Linked DNA regions of Homo sapiens: region 1 is linked to region 2. The links come from fine-mapping of genetic effects on gene expression. A gene starts in region 2. The other region holds a variant in brackets. All regions are shown on one strand. Distances are between the middles of the regions.

Region 1 (9,241 bases), 22 kb after region 2:
AGATGCCAGGCCAGCCTTTCTTTGGATGTCTTACTCCCGTTCTTGAGAGGGGAAGGGGCCGTGCAAAGCACTTAAAGAGTCATTGATGGACCCATGCTGATTTAGTTAATTTATTAATTAATTTGGTTTGAAGCCAGCATAGCATCGTGAAGAAATCCAGCCATCTAGCACCCATCCATCTATCTAGTAACATTCATTATGTGTTAGGAGCTAGGAATACAGAGGTGAACAAGATAAAACATTTTTGCCCTCAAGTTATTCATTGTCTGGTAGAGAAGACAGGTTAAAAGGAAAGTAAGGGGCTAGGTACAGTGGCTCATGGCTGTAATCCCAATGCTTTGGGAGACTCAGGTGGGAGGTTCACCTGAGCCCATGATTTTGGGACCAGCTTGGGCAACCTGGCAAGATCCCACTTCTACAAAAAATAAAAGCAAATTAGCTAGCGGTGGTGGCACGCTCCTGTGGTCTCAGCTACTCGGGAGGCTGAAGTGGGAGTGTGTCTGGAATTGGTGGGTTCTTGGTCTCACTGACTTCAAGAATGAAGCTGCAAACCCTCGCGGTGAGTGTTACAGCTCTTAAGGTGGCACGTCTGGAGTTTGTTCCTTCTGATGTTCAGATGTGTTCGGAGTTTCTTCCTTCTGGTGGGTTCATGGTCTCACTGGCTCAGGAGTGAAGCTGCAGACCTTCACGGTGAGTGTTACAGTTCTTAAGGCGGTGCGTCTGGAGTTGTTCGTTCCTCCCGGTGGGCTCGTGGTCTCGCTGGCTTCAGGAGTGAAGCTGCAGACCTTCATGGTGAGTGTTACAGCTCATAAAAGCAGTGTGGACCCAAAGAGTGAGCAGTAGCAAGATTTATTGCAGAGAGCGAAAGAACAAAGCTTCCACAGTGTGGAAAGGGACCTGAGCGGGTTGCCACTGCTGGCTCGGGCAGCCTGCTTTTATTCTCTTATCTGGCCCCACCCACATCCTGCTGATTGGTAGAGCTGAGTGGCCTGTTTTGACAGGGTGCTGATTGGTGTGTTTACAAACCTTGAGCTAGATACAGAGTGCCGATTGGTGTATTTACAATCCCTGAGCTAGACATAAAGGTTCTCCAAGGCCCCACCAGACTCAGGAGCCCAGCTGGCTTCACCCAGTGGATCCCGCACCGGCGCTGCAGGTGGAGCTGCCTGCCAGTCCCGCGCCCTGCGCCTGCACTCCTCAGCCTTTGGGTGGTCGATGGGACTGGGCGCTGTGGAGCAGGGGGTGGTGCTCGAGGAGGCTCGGGCCGCACAGGAGCCCACGGAGGGGGTGGGAGGCTCAGGCATGGCGGGCTGCAGGTCCCGAGCCCTGCCCCACAGGAAGGCAGCTAAGGCTCGGTGAGAAATCGAGTGCAGTGCTGGTGGGCTGGCCCTGCTGAGGGACCTAGTACACCCTCCGCAGCTGCTGGCCCGGGTTCTAAGCCCCTCATTGCCCGGGGCCCGCAGGGCCAGCTGGCTGCTCCGAGTGCGGGGCCCGCCAAGCCCACGCCCACCCGGAACTCCAGCTGGCCCACAAGCGCAGCACGCAGCCCCAGTTCCCGCTCGCGCCTCTCCCTCCACACCTCCCTGCAAGCCGAGGGAGCCGGCTCTCGCCTTGGCCAGCCTAGAAAGGGGATCCTACAGTGCAGCGGTGGGCTGAAGGGCTCAAGTGCCACCAAAGTGGGAGCCCAGGCAGAGGAGGCGCCGAGAGCGAGCGAGGGCTGTGAGGACTGCCAGCACGCTGTCACCTCTCAGGAGGATCACTGGAGCCCAGGAGTTCAAGGTTGCAGTGAGCTATGATTGTGCCACTGCACTCCAGTGTGGGTCACAGAGCGAGACTCTGTCTCTTAAAAAATAAGTAAATAGGCTGGGTGCAGTGGCTCACGCCTGTAGCACTTTGGGAGGCTGAGGCAGGTGGATCACCTGAGGTCAAGAGTTCGAGACTAGCCTGGCCAACCTGCCGAAACCCTCTCTCTACTAAAAATACAAAATGTAGCCGGGCGCAGTGGCAGGCACCTGTGACCCCAGCTACTCGGGAGGCTGAGGCAGGAGAATCACTTGAACCTGGGAGGCAGAGGTTGCAGTGAGCTGAGATCGCACCACTGCACTCCAGCCTGGGCAATAAGAGTGAGACTCTGTCTAAAAAAAAATAAATAAAATAAAAAAGTAAATAAATAAAGAAAGAAAGGGAAATAAGAATTATAAGCAAATAGCTTCTGAGCCCACATCCAGAGTTTTTTGTTTGTTTGTTTGTTTTGTTGTGTTTTTTTTTTGAGATGGAGTTCCGCTCTTGTTGCCCAGGTTGGCGTGCAGTGGCACGATCTCAGCTCACTGCAACCTCCATCTCCCGGGTTCAAGCGATTCTCCTGCCTCAGCCTCCCGAGTAGCTGGGATTACAGGTGTGTGCCACCTGGGGAGAAACCCCAGAGATCGGGTTTCTCCATGTTGGTTAGTCTGGTCTCAAACTCCCAACCTCAGGTGATCCGCCCGTCTCGGCCTCCCAAAATGCTGGGATTACAAGCGTGAGCCACCACACCCAGCCCCAACATCCAGAGTTTTTGGAGAACAGAAGCGAGGGTGTGGAACCCAACCTGGGGTTTCAAGGGAGGAGATGGCCTTTGAAGAGCAAAAGAGAGTCTGTGAGGCGTGGGAGATGTGACTCACTTATTTATGAAAGGCGTGGCTTACACTTAAGGCATACTGAACTCTAAGGGACCACAAAAGAGGAGCCTATGCATCTGATGAGTTGAAGTGTTTAGAAAACAGCTATTGCAGATTTTTGTTAAAACACCCAGCTCCTTTCCCTTCTTAGATGGAGAACAAGCGTTAGAGCTTTCAGACTTCAGGATTTTCTTCTTGGGCTAACATTGGTCTGATTGTCCAGCTCGGATTCTGTCTGCACTGGGCGAAACTCCTCCATGTGGTTCGGGGGGAATCATTTCAGCTCACCGCTTAGGATGACGCATAGGGCATCTCCACAGAGTTTTGGCCACTTGCATCCTAGAGCTTGATGCTTTTCCTGAGATACGCGCCCTTGGTGGGTGGTAGTTTCTGCATCTGGTCTCACCCACTCCAGTTCTTCCTCACCTCCATCAAGGTGAACTTTGTAGAAACACTCTTCTGCTTCCAGTCCTTCAAAGACATTTTTTAGCCCTAAGGATAAAACCCATACCCCATACCACAGCTAACAAACTGGAGTTTGGCTGGGTGTGGTGGCTCACGCCTGTAATTCCAGCACTTTAGGAGGCCAAGGTGGGCACATCACTTGACAGGAGTTCAAGACCAGCCTGGCCAACATGGCGAAATCCCATCTCTACTGAAAATGCAAAAATTAGCCAGATGTGGCGGTGCACGGGAGAACCTGGGAGACAGAGGTTGCAGTGATCTGAGATTGCACTGCTGCACTCCAGCCCGGGCAACAGACTGAGACTCTGTCTCAAAACAAACAAACAAAACCAACAAAACCCCAAACTGATTTCTTCTCCACTCTTCTCTCTTGCAGTGGTCTTTGGATGAGCCCTCCCTTCATCTGTGTGATGGGTTCATCCTGGTGCACTCTCCACTTCCTCTGTTTAATTAGTTTCTACTCACTACTTAGGTCTCAGTTGTACACGAGGGCCTCAGGAAAGCTTTCGTGGATGCCTCGGGTGTTCTGTGATGGTCCTTGCTGCTTTCTGTGGTGGCTGTTCAATCATCTGACCACTACATTGGGTTGAATAGCATCCTCCCTAAATTCATGTCCATCTAGAACCTCAGAATGTGACCATATTTGGAAACAGGGTCTTTGCAAATGTTATTAATTAAGGCTCTCGATGATCTCAGAATCGATTTAGGGTGGGTCCTAAATCCAGTGACATTTCCTTATAAGAAGAGGAGAAGACACAGGGACACACAGAGAGAGATGGTGACGTGAAGATGGAGGCAGAGATTGGAGCCATGCCTCTACAAGCCAGGAACACCAAGGACCGCTGGCAACCAGCAGAACAAGGAGAGAGGCATGGAACAGATTCTCCCTCAGAGCCTCCAGAAGGTACCAGCCCGGCCGACATCTTGATTTCAGACTTTTAGCCTCCTGTACTGTACTTTTTTTTTTTTTTTTTTTTGACGGAGTCTTGCTCTGTCGCCCAGGTTGGAGTGCAGTAGTGCGATCTTGGCTCACTGCAACCTCCACCTCCCAGGTTCAAGCGATTCTCCAGCCTCAGCCTCCCAAGTAGCTGGGATTACAAGCATCTGCTGCCATGCCTGGCTAATTTTTGTATTTTTGTAGAGATGGGGTTTCACCATGTTGGCTAGGCTACTCTCGAACCCCTGACCTCAAGTGATCCACTCGCCTTGGCCTCCCAAAGTGCTGCGATTACAGGTCTGAGCCACCACGCCTGGCCTGTACTGTTGTTTTAAGCCACACAGCTTGTGGTAATTTGTTATGGCAGCCACAGAAAACTTACACACCTCCCTCCTAGCTCTGGACTTCAGGAAGAAAAATGCCTCATCTGTTCTTTCCCGCTTATATTCCTAGCATGTAACACAGTGCTTGGTACGTAGTGGGCAATTAATAAATATTTGTTCATCAATAAATGGGCTCTAGGAGCTCAAGATGCCCTGGAATGTCACCCCAAATTTTGCATGTAGGAATACTTTTCTGGGGAGAGAGTTCATCCATTCATGAACATTTACCAGATTCTCC[A/G]AAGGGCGTGGGTTGCCAAATGCTTAGGAACTTCCGCTTTCAGTGTTTAGCAGGTTAGCGGGGAAATATTAGTCCCATTATTTAAGCTGAGATTTGCGAGGCCTACACGTTTTTTTTTTCTCATGTGCTGTCTCTACTGTCACACTCTCATCCTGAGCAGAAAGGAGGACTCAGGGGTCAGATGCCAAATGTGGTTCGTTGGGCTCTCCTTCTCCCCACCCCCTTATGAAAGTGTTTCTTTCCATCTGAGCCTTGTGACAGTGGCCAGGTGGCTAGCCCTCTGGCCTGAGGTCGACGGCTTTTCATTCTTCTTTGTTGACAGGAAAGCCGGGCTTCCTGTGAGGCCATGAACTGATTCATCGCTGGTTTCTCCCACTGCCTACTCACGGCCAGTGGGGAACCATGACTTTCAGACACGAACTCTTATTGCCCAACAGGGTCTGGGGTGACTAGCTGGGACTGCACGCTCAAGCCACCACGCCCGGTTCTGTTGCCTCCTTTTTATTTGTGCATGAATTTTCTAGGACTGCTGGAACAAATTACTCCAAACTGGACAGCTTAAAATGTTACTTTGTTCTGGCCAGGCACAGTGGCTCACACCTGTAATCCCAGCACTTTGGGAGGCCGAGGCGGGCAGATCACGAGGTCAGGAGATCAAGACCATCCTGGCTAACGTGGTGAAACGCTGTCACTACTAAAAATACAAAAAATTAGCCGGGCATGGTGGCAGGTGCCTGTAGTCCCAGCTACTCAGGAGGCTGAGGCAGGAGAATGGCGTGAACCCGGGAGGCAGAGATTGCAGTGAGCCGAGATTGCGCCACTGCACTCCAGCCTGGGTGACAGAGTGAGACTCCATCTCAAAAAAAACAAAAATAAAAACAAAAAAACATTACTTTGTCCTTTCACAGTTCGGAGAGCCAGAAGTCCAAAATCAAGGTTATGACTGAAGGCTCTGACAGAGAATCCATTCCTTGCCTCTCTCCTGGATTCTGGTGCCTGCTGGAATCCTTGGCATTCTGGGCTTCTAGACTCCTATCTCCGCCTCAGTTGTTATGAGGCGTTCTTTCATGCCAGTGTCCAGACTCCCCTCCTCTAATAAAAATACCAGTCTTTGGATTGAAGGCCCACCCTACTCCAGTATGACCTCATCTTAACTTAATGACATCTGCGAAGACGCTATCTCCAAATAAGGTCACGTCACAGGTTCTGGATTGATATGAAATTGAGGGGAACGCTGTTCAGTCTGGTGCAATTAGCTGTATTACGTATCTCTCTCTCTCTCTTTTTTTTTTTTTTGAGACACAGTTTCACTCTGTTGCCCAGGCTGGAGTGCAGTGGTGCAATCTTGGCTCACTGCAACCTCCGCCTCCGGGTTCAAGCGATTCTCCTGCCTCGGCCTTCTGAGTAGCTGGAATTACAGGCACCTGCCACTACGCACGGCTGATTTTTGTATTTTTAGTAGAGACGGAGTTTTGCCATGTTGGCCAGGCTGGTCTTGAACTCCTGACCTCAAGTGATTCACCTGCCTTGGCCTCCCAAAGTGCTGGGATTACAAGCGTGAGCCACCATGCCTGGCCTACATATCTCTTTTTACTCCGCTTCTAACGCAGTCTATAATGTAGTAGGTGGTCAGTCAGTATCTGTCGCATTAAAGACTAAATGTCATGCTTAAGAGGGCAGGAGCCAGACAGTTTGAGCTCAAATCCCAGCTCTGCCACTTCCTATCTGTGGCCCCGGGCAAACTGCATCATCCCCTGGAGTTTTGCTTTCCTCTTCTGTAAGTGGGGACAATGATAGCACCTCTACCTCACAGGATGTTGTGAGGGTTAAATTAAGTAATCTGGGCCGGGCACAGTGGCTCACACCTGTAATCCCAGCACTTTGGGAGGCCGAGGCAGATGGATCACCTGAGGTCAGGAGTTTGAGACCAGCCTGACCAACAAGAAGAAACCCCATCTCTACTAAAAATACAAAAGTAGCCAGGCGTGGCGGCACATGCTTGTAATCCCAGCTACTCGGGAGGCTGAGGCGGGAGAATCATTTGAACCCGGGAGGCGGAAGTTGCAGTGAGCTGAGATTGCGCCATTGTACTCCAGCCTGGGCAACAGAGCAAGACTCCATCTCAAAAAAAAAAAAAAAAAAAATTAAGTAATCTGTAAACCAGGTGTGGTGTTGCACATCTGTGGTCCCAGCTACTCCAGAGGCTGAAGCACACGGATCCCTTAATGCCAGGAGTTCAAGGCTGCAGTGAGCTATGATCATGCCATTGTACTCCAGCCTGGACAACAGAGTGTCTCATAAAAAAAATAAAAAATAAAAAATTAAGTAATCTGTGTAATCAGTTAGCATAGAGCCTAGCATACAATAGATAGGGTTCTATGTTAGCTATGGTTATTTTTGTTATTGTTACTAGAAATGTCCAAATGGAATGTCAGTGTGAATTGGCTAATCTGCATGATAAAAGGTCCAGTGACAAAACTTGGAAGGATGAGGTGGAGTTCCAGTGACAAATTCCTGTTAATCCCTATGCTGGCTGTGCATTGGGGCCAACACCTTTATTTGAATCAACACAACAGCTGCAACAATCACTAACCCTTACCAAGCTCTTGCAAGGTGCCAGGCTCTAGGCATTACCCTGGCTAATTCTTGGTACCACCCTACTTTTCTCTTATATCTCAGATGAGGAAATTGAGGTTAAGTAACACGCCCAGAGTTGGTGAGTGGCCAAGCCAATATTCAAACTCAGATTTCCTCATTCTAGAGCCTTATTCTTTCAGGGCTGGGCAGAACTGGGGAATCAGCAAAGAGAATCCATCAAGATTTGGCCAGCTTTCCCATATGGCTGTCAAAGAGCAGGAGGCCAGGCGTGGTGGTTCACATCTGTAATTCCAGTACTTTGGGAGATCGAGGCGGAAGGATTGCTTGAGCTCAGGAGTTTGAGAGCAGCCTGGGCAACATAGCAAGACTTCATCTCTACAAAAAAATCAATAAATTAGCTGGGCGTGGTCCTACCTACTCCGGAGGCGGAGTCAGGAGGATTGCTTGAGCCCAGGAGGTTGAGGCCACAGTGAGCTATGATCGTGTCACTGCACTCCAGCCTGGGTGATGGAGTGAAATCCTGTCTCAAAAAAAAAAGGAGATTGGAATCTCATCATTTTTTTTCTCCCTTTGGTGCTAATGAAGGATTTTTGTGCTGTCCAAGCATAAGAGGCAACCTGAGAAATGGGATTGTATTTAGTTATTTATTTTAAGATGAAGTCTTGCTCTATCGCCTAGGCTGGAGTGCAGTGGCGCGATCTTGGCTCACTATAACCTCTGCCTCCCAGGTTCAAGTGATTCTCCTGCCTTAACCTCTCGAGTAGCTGGGACTACAAGTGTGTGCCACCATACCTGGCTAATTTTTGTATTTTTAGTAGAGACAGCATTTCACCATGTTGGCCAGGCTGATCTTGAACTCGACCTCAGGTGATCCACCTGCCTCGGCCTCCCAAAGTGCTGGGATTACAAAGTGCGTGGGTGGCACCCAGGCAGAAATGGGATTTAGATGTCAGTCATCAAAATGGTTGATGCAACCATCGTTCAGGAGGCTCACCCAGCCAGGGATGTGTGATGGCTGCAGTTTCAGGTGCCTGCAATCTTATCCTGCCTACTCCAGCTTCATCTCCAACCCTCTCCTCATGTTCCTCACATTGCACATGTTTCTGTTCCTTGAACATATGCTTTTCCCTGCCTCAGGGCCTTTGCACTGGCTGTTGCCTCTTATTGGCGAGGTCTCTCCTCAGGCTTCAAGCAGCTGATCGCTTCTCATCCTTCTGGCCTCCACTCAAATACCATGTCCTCAGAGAGGCCTTTCCTGACCGTGCTCTCCAACATTGCCTTCCTACCCCATGCACATCTCCTACCCATTCTCCTGTTCTGTTTCCATGACCTGTATCACTGTTGAAATGATCTTCTTTGTTTACTTCTTTGTTGCCTGTCTCTCCCACTGGAATATTGCCTCCTTACAGCAGCCTCCTTATCTGTCTTATTTATGTCTTCAGTGGCTAAAACAATGCCTGGCACATGGTAGGTGCTCAAACAATAATTGTTCACGTACTTGGATTCCTGGATCTAAACTTCTAGGTGTGCACACATGGGTTGACCCGAGCATGAGAGCTGGAACTAGACTGCCTTGGTCTGTTACTTGCTAGCTCTGGGACACTGTGCTAGTTATTAAACCTTGCTGGACCTTAGTATGCTTATCTCTGCAATGGGAAAATAATGGCACCTACATCACAGGGCTATGGTGAGGAGGAAATAAGTTAGGTCATATAAGGCAGCAAAAGGGTCCCTGGCATGTATTGGTGCTTGATGGGTGCTAGCTCTTATGATTCCCTATGACACCGGCCCTGCTCCCCTGTTCGTCACAATTCCCTCCTCTGGCTGGAGGGTGAGGCCTGTTTTCTCAGCGTCTGTTCCAAAAGCACCTTGCTCTATCTATTCCCAGACTCTCACCCTTCCCCAGGTTGAGCTGTAGGACTCATCTGGCTTCTTAGAATCTGCTTGTTTCTTCTCATTCCTA
Region 2 (9,241 bases):
AGCTGAGATTACCTGCCATCATGAGAAGGCTCTGTCTGGCCAGCACTGAAGTTCTGGTGCCAGCTGCCCCTTTCCTCTCTTCCCTTGCCTGTATCATCAGATGTTTACACTTGCAAAAGGGATGGGGCTAGGATGAATCTGTAACCCCTGAATAGAGTTAGAATTATTGAATGTTAAAGCTGAAGGGGAAAATTGAGGTTATCTTTTTCAATTCCTTTTTGTAAAATCTTACTCATTTTGTAAAATCGGGAAACTGATCCCCAAGAGGTGAAGGGACTTGACTGAAATAGCCCAATACTGAATCTCCTGCCTTCCAGGGCTCCTGCTGTACAAGCCTACAGGAGAGCATTTTATTGTATTTAATTTTTTTGAGATGGAGTCTTGCTATGTCACCTAGGCTGAAGTGCAGTGGCACGATCTTGGCTCACTGCAACCTTAGCCTCCCGGGTTCAAGCGATTCTTCTGCCTCAGCCTCCCGAGTAGCTGGGATTACAGGCACCCACCATCATGCCCGGTTGATTTTTGTATTTTTAGTAGAGATGAGGTTTCAGTATGTTAGCTAGGCTGGTCTCGAACTCCTGACCTCAAGTGATCTGCCCGCCTTGGCCTCCCAAAGTGTGGGATTACAGGTGTGAGAAACAGCTGATACTTTTGAATTTAGTACTGAATTCTATTAATCAACTGATGGCTTAAGCGAAGCCTGGTGGCCCAAGGAAACTGAGCTCGGAGAAAGTGTAAATGCTAGATGGTTCTTGCAAACATGGGTGTAAAGTAGCTAGCTGGTCATTGCTTAGATCTATTCTATGACAGCTGTTTAGAAGATGGTGGACTTTTTGTTTTTGTTTTTGGAGATGGAGTTTCGCTCTTGTTGCCTAGGCTGGAGTGCCATGGCACAATCTCAGCTCACTGCAACCTCCACCTCCCGGGTTCAAGTGATTCTCCTGCCTTAGCCTCCCAAGAAGCTGGGATTACAGGCATGCGCCACCATGCCCGGCTAATTTTGTTTTAGTAGAGATGGAGTTTCACCATGTTGGTCAGGCTGGTCTTGAACTCCTAACCTCAGGTGATCTGCCTGCTTTGGCCTCCCAAAGTGATAGTATTAAACGTTAGATAGTATCTAAACGATAGTGCTGGGATTACACGCGTGAGCCAGCATGCCCAGCCTTCTTCTTCTTCTTTTTTTTTTTAATAGAGACAGGGTCTCCCTATGTTGCCTAGGCTGGTCTGGAACTCCCGGACTCAAGCGATCCTCCCACCTCGGCCTCCCAAAGTGATAGTATTAAACGTGTGAGCCACCTCACCTAGCCAGATGGTGGACTATTCATTTCTATTTCCTTTCTGAGCCACTGCTGGGAAGTTAATTCCTTAGTTTTTTTAAAAAACTCTGCTTTATGTCTGAGCTATTCTACTCTAGCTAGAGCCACATATAACTTTCACCTGCATTCTTGGGTTTTTGGACAGAAGCTTTCTTTTCTTTTTATAACTGAGATCTCCATCAAGGAAAGATGACACCCTGAACCCCGTCCTACCCCCAAGGTTTATGCCTTTATCATCCTAAAGCATCCTATGTCCTATTAAATTTAGCTTTGAAGATAAGACCACAATATAAAGTAATAACAGGATAACCTGGTTTCTGAACCTTCCTGGGTGATAATGCCTGTATTTAAGTAAAGTCATGCACAGGTCTTTCCTTAAAAAACCGAGTCATAAGGGGAGAAAGTGCTTGGTTGCAGAATAAAACCCTTCCTGGACTCTTCTCCCTTTTTTCTTTTCTCTTCTCTTCTTCTCTTCTCTCTCTCTTTCTCTCTCTCTCTCTCTCCCCCTCCCTCCCTCCTTTCTTTTTTTTTTTTTTTTGGGGGTTGGGGATGGAGTCTCAGTCTGTCTCCCAGGCTGGAGCACAGTGGTGCGATCTCAGCCCACTGCAAGCTCTGCCTCCCGGGTTCAAGCGACTCTCCTGCCTCAGCCTCCTGAGTAGTTGGGATTAAAGGCGCATGCCACCACGCCCGGCTGATTTTTTTTTTGTATTTTTAGTAGAGACAGGGTTTCACCATGTTGGTCAGACTGGTCTCAAACTCCTGACCTTGTGATCCGCCCGCCTCAGCCTCCCAAAGTGCTGGGATTACAGGCGTGAGCCACTGTGCCCGGCCTTCTCCTTTTCTTTTTTTCCATTCCTTCAGCAGAAGGCCAAACCTTCTGTCTCTGCAAACAAAGCAACTGAGGCCTGAATTTTGAACTCATTTATGCAGAAGCCTCTGTAAGTTCCAGAATATAAAAGTTTATCTGTCCACTTTGGTCTGTGGCCATGTGAATTTATCTGACGGGTAGGGATATTTTTCAGCTGTGTAGGGATCTAACTGGTGAGGCGAGCTGAGTCATCCTGCCCATCAACCCCTGCTTTACGGATGATGGAATTTAGGCAAATCACTTCACTTCCCCATTTTCAATGTCAATGTAAAATCAAGGTAAATGTAAAAAAGGGAGTTGAACTAGACTCTGATGAGCTTAGATCTCTTCCTGCCCTAATAGTCTATACTTCTATGACAGCCTTTGACCGTCACTTGCTTTAATCCTTCTAAGCCCTTTGAAGGCAAGGCCGAAGAGTTGGTCTTCTTAAAGCTCTTAGGCCATATTTGTTAATTTCTGTGTACCATTAACTGGCTGCACAGTTATGGAAACCACAGAATCCTGAACTTCTAGAACTTCTATCATCTGTAAAGCATGGGTTGTCAGGGGAGTCTCTCAAGCCTTTTCCAACTTACAAAACTCGACAATTCTGAATGGGGGTTCCCGGCAGCCATCTTCCCTTCACCCTAGTGTTCTTCTGGAGGAAGTACAATGACACAATCCACGGGCAGTTTGGAGGATTTCCTAGTAGCATGTGGTTAAGTGTCCCCTTAAATAAATGAGTATTGGCCGGGTGCGGTAGCTCATGCCTATAATCCCAGCAATTAGGGAGGCCGAAGCAGGCAGATTACTTGAGCCCAGGAGTTTGAGACCAACCCGGGCAACATAGTGAGGCTGTGTCTCTACAAAAAAATTAAAAAATGAGGTGGGAGGATCGCTTGAGCCCGGGAGGTCGAGGCTGCAATGAGCAGAGATGACGCTACTGCACTCCCATGATGGGAGTGAGACCCTGCCTCTAAACAAATAAATAAGTAGGTATCTTGCCAAAGGCTTGGAAATCCGCTATCCTTGGGAGTTTCACTGTGATTTAATTTGTCGAGAGAAGATTTGGCCCGAGGGCATGAAAAAAATTGTATTATTGTAGACCATCAGAGTGTTATTCCAGGGTCAGCTAAGAGCAAGTTTCAAAACGCAGGCTCTGGATGGAAATGGGGTGGCTACTGTTGTAGGCAGACCTCGAGCAAAAGCACTGCGGATTTCTCTTCTTCTTAAAGGCGTAGCCCGGAGAACAGCTTTGACAAGTTGTTTCTGGCCCAAGTTGTCAAAACCAGTCTGTATTTGGCTAAAGTTCATCTGCATTCTCTATTTAAAAAAAATTTCCAAACCTAACCTGGATAGCTGCCTCACGATGTTGAATCACTGGCTACAACCGAGTCACCATTTTACAAGACTATGGTGTTGAAACCTGAGCCCCTAATTTAAGTGTCCTCCTCAGGAGTTCCACTGAGGAAAGTCCTTTTTCGGAAACCACAGAAGGAAAACTCAGGGTTAGTGGTACTCATTACACTGGAAGGAGCTTTTCCACTTGGCTGCATTGTTTATTTACACACTGTAAGTTCCTATTTTGGACACTCTTCCCTTAATTATGAGAAGAGGGGTTTCTATTATATCATCTGGCCGGATGTATTGTTGACCCCAAAAATGCCACATAACGGTGCTTGGGACATGGGGAGATGCATGGTTTAGAGATTTCAGCATAAGCACTTGGCATCTTTTTTACAAGCAAGACACCTATCTTACCATGATTTGCAAAAACAATCAGATCACTGAGAAATCTCATTCCCGGGGTAGAAACCATCTCCTGCGAGAAGGAGCTGGCACGGAGTGTCTAACCGTGCAAACAAAACCGGCTTCCAGGTTGACAAGTTGTAATTGCTCTTCCCCAGTTGGCTCCGGGGAGCTTTTTCTAAGACTGACGCCCCCCATGTTTGGTGACATTTTATATACGCCACCTAACAAACTTCTATGACCTGTCTTGCTAGGGTGGGGGGAATAAAAAGAAAAGACGACAACAACCTAGAAGGAAATAACCCATTTCCTCTGCAAAACCATCTTCCCTTGCTACGGAACTGCTTGGCGACACCAGCGCTTTCCTGCGGTTGGCAGCCCGGGAACCTTGAAGTTGCGCGGGACCGGCCGTCAGCCGCTGACAGTTCTGACAGTCCAGGTGGAGGACCCGCGCTCTGCCGGGAAATCCCCGGCTTCCCGCTGGGGACAAACGGTGGCCGCCGCAGGGAGTGCTGTGTTTGGGGGTCGGGGGAGGCAGGGAGCCCCACTTTCCCTCGCGCTGCCTCAGTGCCCGGCCTGCGTGCGCGCGCCAGCCTGGGGTAGGAAGGTACCTCTGACATTTCGCTCCTGCGACGCGCAGGCAACTTCATGCGGAAAATCCGCGGAGGGGCTGAGCCTGGAGCCCCCGACTCTTCCGACGTCCCGGAGCCCCCAACCCGGGGCAGGGGGCACTCAAAGGCCAGGCGTGCCTTTAGGTATCTTCCGGGACCCAACTGTACCAGGGTCACGGACATTCAACTCTCAGCTACCCACACCGGCGCGAGCGCGTCATCCCGGTGGCCCTGGGCATTCCTAACTGTCAGAGCGAATATTTTTGGGAATAACCTCTCCAAAATGTGAAGATGTTCAGTGGTCTCCTCCGCCTCCCATCACAAAAAAAGGCCCCAACACATATTTTTTAAAAAACAACCCACATCCCACAATCAAACTTTTAAACATGTAAAATAATAAACCAACTCACCAAGTTAGAAGGGAAGAGAATAAACCCCCAAAGGCTCCCAATAAGGCGGAGGCTTGGCCTCCCCCTCCTTATAAGCCGCTCGGTAACATGAGAAAAGGATTAACCCCTTAGGGGGCGGGCCCGACTCTAGCGCAAGTTGGCTCGGGCTGGTGAGGCCCGAGCGCCCGGGCCCTCCACCCACTCCCGCGACTCGGGCACCCGAGCCACACCCTCCCCCCGCCCCCCACCCCGGCCGCCTGCGACCCGGGCCGTGCGTGCTGCCGCCCGCGCCCCGGCCCCGCGTCGCTGCCTAGCTCTTATCCTATACCGGCTGCAGCCGGTCTCCGCCGGCCTCGGGGGCGCGCCGCCGCCGACCATGTGCTGCGAGCGCTGAGCGCAGCCAAGGAGGGGGCCTGCCTGGCGCGCGCGCGCCGTCCCACGTGGACCTGAGCCGCGCCGGTCGCGCGCCCGCCAGCCTGCCGCCTGGGCTGGGGGTCACGAAAGGTAACCGCGTCGCGGTCCGGGGCCGGGCCGCCCCCGCCAGCGCCGCCGGGGTCCTTGGCACAACGCCCCGATCTCCCAACCCGGGTGCGCCTCTGCGCGCGTGACCCGCCCAGACCCCGGAGCTTTGCTGCAACGCTAGTAGGAGCGCGAGCGTGCAGGGTGTTGGGGGTGCCTGCATCCTGTCTCGGAGCACCTCGGCCAGGCGCGAGCGCGCGGGTCCCCGTCCCCACCCCCGGGCGCCTTCCCGGCGCGCCCACCGCCCAGTCCCGCCCGCGCCCTGAGGATTTAGGGATTTAGCGGCGAGGGGGAACACGCGCGCGCCGGGGCTGATCCCGCGCGGCGCTCGCGGCTGCGGCGGCTTCGCGCCCGCCCCGGGCAGAACAGGTTCCTTCCAGTTTGGGTGTGAGCTGCGCGCGCGGCGCCTGAGTTCCTCCTGCAGCGCCCACTTCCCCCAGTTTCGTCAACTCGCGCACCCCCACAGTTCCCCTTCCGGCAGTGGGGAGGGAGTGTCGCAGTGGGCCCCAGGGAGCGAGCGGCCGGGCCGCTGCGGGTGCCTTGCTTCCCCCACTTTGCTGCACCGGCAGCAGCGGCAGCAACAGCATCCGCGTTGCGCGAAAGGAATGTGAGCAGCCGGGCTGAGTCAGCATCCCCGGCCCGGGGCGCGCGCGCACCCTCCAGGCAGTGGCGGCGTCGGCACAGGTGCATGGCTCCCATACCCGCGGGGAGCCCTCTGTAAGGGACCTGGAGGTTTAGACAGTCCGTGCCCCTCATCCCGTAGTCCCCGACCCCAAGGTCACCGTGAACTAAGCGGATGATGCACGCGAAATCTCAGGAGCTCCTCATGGGGACAAAGCATGTGTCAGATCCTAGACATTTCAGAGCCTGCGGGGGCGCAAACTTAGCTTCTTGGTCTCTACCTCACATCCCGAGGGCAAATTTGGAAACTGCTCGGAAGCAAAGGCCATGTTATTTGCATTCGTATGCAGACTTTGGCGCCGGCTGCTGCCTTCATTGGGGTTCGGAGAATGTGGTTCTGATGTCAGAAACTCAAGAGAGCCTAGTTTGGGAGTGCATGCACGGAGGGTCGCCACCGGGAGGAGTCGGCGATCTGAATTTTAATAAAAATCCTTCCTTGCTCGCTGAGTTCTCTCACCATTTTGGGATAGGCTCTCCTGAGTTAAATGCCATCCTTTGCCGTTGACAAGTTCTGGTTGTGTAAGTGGGGAGAAGATTCGTTGGTACAGGGTGCCTTGTATGGCCAGTAGTGTACAGCCAAGGGGCCGCTGAGCAGCTTTGCAACCTTGTAGGCGTAATTTAACCTCGTAGAGCGTTAATTTCTCCAGATCTGTAAAATGGGGATGGAGGTGGTATTCCCAGAATTGGAGGGTTTAATTTATGGTACTTGTAAAGTGCGGATCGCAGTGACTGGCATTTGGTAAGGCCTCAGTACCCATTAGCTCTTGCTGCTGTTACGATTTATGCTTTACCAAGGCCAATTAATTGCTGACTCCAACACACTCCCTGTGAGAGAGAGCCCTTTTTTGAGTTGTTCTTCAAAGGATCCATATATAATGATATTTAGAAACTGATTTGAACACTTCATGCTAATGCAGGGCTGCCTGTAAGATAATCTTTGATATTTAGGATCTTACACTTTAATACTTAGGACCTGTTACTGTACTCTATATGGAAATATCATGTGCAATATGACAGCATATTCTGTATGTCTTAGGAACCTAAAGGTGCAGCCAGCCATTTATACCTGAGTGACTCGAAGCAAGTCACATAAAATCTCTGTACTTCAGTCTCTTGATTTAAAAAATGACTCAAATTATACCTAAATCCTCAGGAGTGAATGAATGATTGGAAAAATCACATCTGAATGTTTGAGCAAGTGAAACCTGGCTTTTGGGGAGCATGATTCTAATAATAATAATAATAATAATAATAGATTTTTGTTACTAATGTGTTACTATTCTTATATTTTATTAATATTAATCTTTTTTAAATGTTTGCTTTGTCCTCAACACTGCATTAAGTGCCATACATGTAATGCAATGTTAACCGCATCAGTAACCTTCTGTAGTTGACACTCATTATTCCCATTTTACAGATGAGGAAAGTGGAGGCACTGAGCACTGGAGGGATTGACCTAAGGTTACACCATGTTTATAGATACACACTAGCACTTTTTACCACTAGAGCTCATCCAAAGATGACATTTGCCATCTGTGTTTGAATAATGGAGAGGTAGCTGGAAACCCAACCTACGCACAGCCTTGCTAGTCACAAAAAAGTCACGCAACATGACTTTTGCCCACCCTAGTTAGAGGCTGGCTTCACCTTGTTCCCTCAATCCTAGTGAGACCAAGCGTGAAAACCCCTGCTTTTTTAACTTCTCCAGAGAAAGCACTGCATTGCCATGCTAATCAACGCCCCCTTGCCCCCAAACAAAACTAACTCTGTTTAGTTCTAAATAAGAACAAAAGAACCTTTGGAGTCTGGAGTACAGGACCAGAAAAATCAGGAAATCAAGTGAAGGGCTCAGCTCCCCTCTTAGCCTCTCCTGTTGTGTCTGCCTGATCCCAAGTGGCAGGCAGAGCCCCCTCTCGGCTTTCCTTTACAGTGGGCAAGACCATCATGATGCCCTTAAGAAGACCCCCAACATCTTCTTGGGGAAAAAGTTGGCTCTTCAGAGCTGTCCCCAAGGCTCCCTCTTTTAGCCCTCTTGCATAGGGTCATTTGCATGAGAACAGATTCCTTTGTGTAAAGTTGGCCTGCCTGTTCTCTGTCCACGTTTATAGTCCTTCAAGTCTTCGTGTTGGGTTGCTAGGCAGATATGACCCTGGCTTGCAAATAAGCTCACTGCATTTACCAGCCTGTGAGAACTTCAACTTGGGTAAGTAGACTGAAAGGAATCTGGTCTGGACCTCTGGGAAGAGGGTCCCGCAAGCCTGCTTTTGGGGGCTGACTCTTCAGGGCAGCCATCAAAGGGGGAGAATATGTGAAGGGGGCTTCCATGGGAGGCTTCGATGGCCCACCCACCCTTCCATTCTTCCTCTTCCAGTCTCTGTTCCACCCACCATGCTCCCACCCAGGGGCTTGTGTTCTGGGCAAGTGACTTGTATGCCACTGAAGCAATTTCTTGCTTTAAAACTTTAATATCTGCTTCTCCAATTGGCCAGGAACTTCACACACTCTGCCATCTAGCAACAGTGAACCGATGGTACAGGTAGTTCTGCTAGGTTTATTTTGTGATTTGGGTTCCTCCCCCGCAGCACCCCGCCAAATTTCACAGTTTGTAGGAAGGCAGGGCCCTTCAAACTGGGAAACACACACTTCTGGGAGAATTTAAAGATTTGCCAAGGGGTTCTGAGGCACAGATAGTGATGACGATGATAATAATAATACTACAGAGTTGTGTGCATGGCTTAGTACAGTTGCTAAGTTAACTGAATTAACACGTGCAAGGGGCTTAGCACTGGGATTGGCTCATGGTCAGGTTCCCTAACTCTTGGCTGCGACTCTTTCAACCTGTGAGTCCTGGGGGATTGAGGAGGATGGCGATCAGGGAAGCCTTCAACTGGCAGAGAGGACCTTGGGAGAACTGGCAAGGGGTGCTGAGCCAAGGGAGAGGTGAACAGCATGAGAAGAAGGTAGGAGGTAGGTGAGGCCATTCTGTATTTGGGGACAGTGAGGTCACCTTCCCACTCGTGTGTGTGGGCGGCCGATGATTGATTTCTGTCATACCTGTTACCATTTGGTGCAGTATCGATGTATCGTTGGTGTCTGTCATTAACTCTGAAGTAACTTTTACTTGATCAG

What was found.
Region 1: its variant is fine-mapped to the expression of ARSG in whole blood (TOPMed, PIP above 0.99).

Annotation. Positions count from the first base shown.
Region 1 is chr17:68,307,722-68,316,962 of GRCh38, forward strand. All of the region lies in intron 2 of ARSG (arylsulfatase G), which reads left to right. Among named protein-coding and RNA genes, the nearest start is that of ARSG, 21 kb to the left of the region's middle. The variant A/G (reference allele first, on the strand shown) is at 4,681.
Region 2 is chr17:68,286,153-68,295,393 of GRCh38, forward strand. ARSG (arylsulfatase G) reads left to right here and starts at 5,343. Exons shown (of 12, transcript NM_001267727.2): 1 at 5,343-5,416. It overlaps SLC16A6 (solute carrier family 16 member 6), which reads right to left and starts at 4,975. Exons shown (of 6, transcript NM_004694.5): 1 at 4,934-4,975. RefSeq lists silencers at 5,111-5,800, 5,167-5,341 and an enhancer at 6,201-6,430.